Linked DNA regions of Homo sapiens: region 1 is linked to region 2. The links come from fine-mapping of genetic effects on gene expression. Tissue or cell type: whole blood. Region 2 holds a variant in brackets; the other region holds the start of a gene. All regions are shown on one strand. Distances are between the middles of the regions.

Region 1 (2,607 bases), 360 kb after region 2:
GTCTGTGCCACTGATATTGGCAGCTCCTAATGAGAGGTGACAGCGTGCTGCCAGTCCTCACAGCCCTCGCTCGCTCTCGGGGCCTCCTCTGCCTGGGCTCCCACTTTGGCGGCACTTGAAGAGCTCTTCAGCCCACCGCTGCACTGTAGGAGCCCCTTTCTGGGCTGGCCAAGGCCAGAGCCAGCTCCCTCAGCTTGCAGGGAGGTGTGGAGGGAGAGGCGCGAGTGGGAACCGGGGCTGCGAGCGGCGCTTGCGGGCCAGCTGGAGTTTCGGGTGGGCGTGGGCTTGGCGGGCCCGCACTCGGAGCGGCCCGCGGGCCCTGCTGGCCCCGGGCAATGAGGGGCTTGGCACCCGGGCCAGTGGCTGCGGAGGATGTACTGGGTCCCCCAGCAGTGCCAGCTCACAGGCGCTGCGCTCGACTTCTCACCGGGCCTTAGCTGCCTTCCCGGGGGGGCAGGGCTCGGGACCTGCAGCCCTCCATGCCTGAGCCTCCCACCCCCTCCATGGGCTCCTGTGCGGCCGGAGCCTCCCCGGTGAGCGCCGCCCCCTGCTCCACAGCGCCCAGTCCCATCGACCACCACAGGGCTGAGGAGTGCGGGCGCATGGCGCAGGACTGGCAGGCAGCTCCACCTGCATCCCTGGTGCGGGATCCACTGGGTGAAGCCAGTTGTGCTCCTGAGTCTGGTGGGGACGTGGACAATCTTTACGTCTAGCTCAGGATTGTAAATACACCAGTCGGCACTCAGTATCTAGCTCAAGGTTTGTAAACACACCAATCAGCACCCTGTGTCTAGCTCAGAGTTTGTGAATGCACCAACTGACACTCTGTATCTAGCTGCTCTGGTGGGGCCTTGGAGAACCTTTGTGTCGACACTCTGTATTTAGCTAATCTGGTGGCGACGTGGAGAACCTTTGTGTCTAGCTCAGGGATTGTAAACGCACCAATCAGCACCCTGTCAAAACAGACCACTCGGCTCTACCAATCAGCAGGATGTGGGTGGGGCCAGATAAGAGAATAAAAGCAGGCTGCCTGAGCCCGCAGTGGCTACCTGTTCTGGTCCCCTTCCACACTGTGGAAGCTTTGTTCTTTTGCTCTTTGCAGTAAATCTTGCTACTGTTCACTCTTTGGGTCCATGCTGCTTTTATGAGCTTTAACACTCACCGCGAAGGTCTGCAGCTTCACTCCTGAAGCCAGCGAGACCACAAGCCCACTGGGAGGAACAAACGACTCCAGACGCACTGCCTTAAAAGCTGTAACACTCACCACGAAGGTCTGCAGCTTCACTCCTGAGCCAACAAGACCACAAACCCACCAGAAGGAAGAAACTCCAAACATCCAAACATCAAAAGAAACAAACTCCAGACGCGCTACCTTAAGAGCTGTAACACTCACTGCGAGGGTCTGCAGCTTCATTCTAGAACTCAGTGAGACCAAGAACCCACCAATTCCGGACACACTAAGACAAGATTTCACTAGTGTGTGCTGTTTCCCCTGCAAGGGGGAGGGCACAGAGATGGCTTTGGGTGAGGTTAGGGGGAGGATAGGCCTCCTGGTTGGCTAACACTTGTTTACTTCTGGGGCATGAGTGTTCATGTGAGCCCACGATGCCTGGCCTGTTCCTCTTTTAACAAAGTCTGGTAGGACATGGTGGCTCATGCCTGTAATCCCAGTAATTTGAAGGTCGAGGTGAGAGGATCTCTTGAAGCCGGAGGTTTGAGACCAGTCTAGGCAACATAATGAGAACTCTAAGAAAAAGGAAAAAAAAAAGTGGTGCATGCCTGTGGTTCCAGGTACTTACGAGGCTGAGGTGGGAGGTTCGCCTGAGCCCAGGAGTTTAAGGTTGCAGTGAGAGACGATGGCACCACTGCTCCCTAGCCTGGGCGACAGAGTGAGACCCCATCTCTAACAAAACGAAAACAAGATCCAATGCATCCTCCTGCCTGAAGTTCTTCCGTGGCTTCTCATTGCAGAAATCTACCGAATTTCTTTCTTTGGCTTTCAACTCATGGAGAGTCTGCTCTCACCAGCCTCTCCAGTCTCAGCAAATAGCACAAACTTTCCTGTCCTCCAAAATCTGGCCACCTCAGTGATGCTACGTCCCCCCATAGAGCCTTGGCACAACCTCAGCCTCCAATTGGTAGGGCTGTTGAGGCAAGGCCAGGATAGGAAATCTTGCTACCAGGAAGGAGTAGGTGGGTGAACAGCTTTTCCCTCTACTTCCTCTTCTATGCAGTGTTTGCATAAATCAAGACCTGCAGAGGAGGCAGCAGTAGAAACAGTTTGCTCCAAGGACCAAACTTATTCTGGTGTGCAGCTCACTCGCCCCTACTCATCTCCAGTGTATTTCAAGAGTATGCAGGGAAGGAAAAAGTCAGGCTGAGTTATAGCTGCACAGGCTGCCTCCCATGCTCAGAGCGCAGAGGTGGGGTGCAGCTGGGGCTTACTCAGTATCCAGCAGTGCCCAGATGATGATCATCTGCATCCAAGCCCCTCTGGTCCTGGAGACTCATGCTTCCCTTTGATGTCGCCCTGGATCTGCTCCCATGATGTCTGATACAGACAATTCCCAAGAAACAATAGTCTTCCAAGCCAGAAAGCAGCCTGGC
Region 2 (2,755 bases):
TGCCCGCCTCGGCCTCCCAAAGTTCTAGGATTACAGGCATGAGCCACCACACCCGGCCCCAACTTTTTTTTAATTCCAAGTTTTTTTTGAGACAGGGTCTCACTCTGTCACCTAGGCTGGGATGTGGTGGCACAATCAGCTCACTGTGACCTTGAACTAGGCTCAAGCAATCCTCCTACCTCAGCCTCCTGGATAGCTGGGACTATGGGCCATGCCATCACACCTGGCTCATTTTTGTTTTTTTTGTTTTTTTAGGGTTTTTTTTTTTTTTTTTTTTTTTAGAGATAGGATCTTGCTATGTTGCCCAGGCTAGTCTCAAACTCCTGGACTGAAGTGATCTTCCTGCCTCAGCCTCCAAAAGTGCTGGATTATAGGCATGAACCACCATTCCCAGCCACCTAAGCATATATAACCTCTTTGCAGAACAATGAGGCTCAGTTTTTCTGTATCTTCATTCAACACAGCCTGTCATTCCTGATTGTATACATTCTGTTTGAAAGGTTTTTGTTTGTTTGTTTGCTTGTTTGTTTGTTTTGAGATGGAGTCTCGGTCTGTTGCCAGGCTGGAGTGCAGTGGCGTGATCTCGGCTCACTGCAACCTCTGCCTCCCAGTTTCAAGCAATTCTCCTGCCTCAGCCTCCCCAGTAGCTGGGAATACAGGCACGCACCACCACACCTGGCTAATTGTATTTTAATAGAGACGGAGTTTCACCATGTTGGCCAGGATGGTCTCAATCTCCTGACCTCATGATCCGCCCGCCTCGGCCACCCAAAGTGCTGGGATTACAGGCGTGCACCACCATGCCCGGCCCTCTGTTAGAAAGTTTAAAAGTTTAAAAGTAGCCTCCCAGCTACTTGGGAGGCTGAGGCAGGAGAATTGCTTGAACCCGGGAGGCGGAGGTTGCAGTGAGCCAAGATTGCGCCACTGCACTCCAGCCTGGGTGACAGCGAGACTCCGTCTCAAAAAAAAAAAGTTTAAAAGTGGATTTGTTTTAGCTGGAGAGGGGGCAAGAGAATTGACATCCTGATGGAGTTAAGGCTGAAAAGGGATCCTCCTGCTGCATAGCCCAGGATGCATCCTGTCTGTCCCTTAATTATAAAACATTCAGCAGCAGAAGCCAGTTGTGTTACTGCTTCTGTTGACAGGGAAGTTCCTGAACCTGCATGCAGCTCCCTCAGTGTTAAGCCACAGAAGTAAAGAACCTTTGCCCCTTTCACCCCTAGGCTGGCATCACCCTATTGCTGCCCAGCTCAGCAAGTACCTGAACCCTTCTCTGACTTGTCAGGACCTGGTCTTTGAAAATCATCTGTGGTGAGCCTTATGGCAGCACCAAGGGGGCATAGCCCGGCCCACCTGGGAGGCAAGTCTCGCCCTCAGCCTGTGCT[A/G]CCCAGAGCAGGCGAGGCTGATGCTCTCGGGAGCTTTGACATTTCCTGAATGCCCATGGAGTGGCATGCCATCCAGAACACAGACGGGCTTGAACAAGCTGACAGCTTCTCACTGAGTCACTGTCACTTGTAAGAACCGAGTCCCATGTGTTCACTTGGTCTCTGAGATCAGGTTTGCTGTGTTACTACCTCCCTGACCACCATCAGCCACGTGGCTAGCCCTGCAAGCCTGTCCAGATCTCTTAGTTGTCCCTGCCTGCCCCCATGTGCTCACACACACAGGGACTGGCCCCACTGGCATCGCTGCAGCCTCCAGAGGCCCTCCACCTGGGCATGGCTCCAGCCCTTTTGGCAGTCACTCTCATTTCTCTCTCCTCCTTGTCATTCTAAACAGAAAAATCCCAGTGAGGTGGATTTTCTGCCATTCTGTTTTGGAATCCCTGGGTTGTCATGGTAGACTTGGCAAATGTGAGTGTTATCTGAGTGCCAGGCACTGTTGCGGGCACTTCCCTTAATAAACATTGAATCCTTTGAGCAAGGCTTGAGGTTAGTTAATAGCTCCGGCTTACAAACAAAACTGGAAGACCAGAAAGGCTAAGCAATGTGTTCAGTGTCAAAATCTAGGCAGTGTGCCTGCAGAACCTGCTTTTTTTTTTTTTTGAGACGGAGTCTTGCTCTGTCGCCCAGGCTGGAGTACAGTGGTGAGATCTTGGTTCACTGCAACCTCTGCCTCCTGGGCTCAAGCAATGCTCATGCCTCAGCCTCCCCAGTAGCTGGGACTACAGGTGCCCACCACCACGCTTGGCTAACTTTTTGTATTTTAGTAGAGACAAGGTTTCACCATGTTGGCCAGGTTGGTCTCGAACTCCTGAGCTCAGGCGATCCACCTCGGCCTCCCAAAATGCTGGGATTATAGGCATGAGCCACTACACCTGGCCAGAACCTGCATTCTTGGTTCCTTGGCAGTACTGTGTGAGACCTACTGAATTGTCACCCTACAAGCAGTTTGAGGGTTCTGTGTGGTCTTAGAGCCTTAGATCTTAATCCAAATTATGTCTCTTCGTGGCCAGGCATGGTGTCTCACGCCTGTAATCCCAGCACTTTGGGAGGCCGAGGTGGGCAGATCACCTGAGGTCAGGAGTTGGAGACCAGCCTGACAAACATGGTGAAACCCCGTCTCTACTAAAAACATAAAAATTCCCTGGGTGTGGTGGCACATGCCTGTAATCCCAGCTACTTGGGAGGCTGAGGCAGAAGAATTGCTTGAACCCAGGAGGCAGAGGTTGCAGTGAACCAAGATCGCCCTACTGCACTCCAGCCTGGGCAACAAGAGCGAAGCTCTGTCTAAAATAATAATAATAATAATGATA

What was found. PIP is the estimated chance that this variant, and not a neighbour inherited with it, causes the effect.
Region 1: DPEP2 starts here. The variant in region 2 is fine-mapped to the expression of DPEP2 in whole blood (INTERVAL, PIP 0.97).

Annotation. Positions count from the first base shown.
Region 1 is chr16:67,998,003-68,000,609 of GRCh38, forward strand. It overlaps DPEP2 (dipeptidase 2), which reads right to left and starts at 1,482. Exons shown (of 11, transcript NM_022355.4): 1 at 1,373-1,482. RefSeq lists an enhancer at 1-421.
Region 2 is chr16:67,640,681-67,643,435 of GRCh38, forward strand. No RefSeq gene overlaps it. Among named protein-coding and RNA genes, the nearest start is that of CARMIL2, 3.1 kb to the right of the region's middle. The variant A/G (reference allele first, on the strand shown) is at 1,386.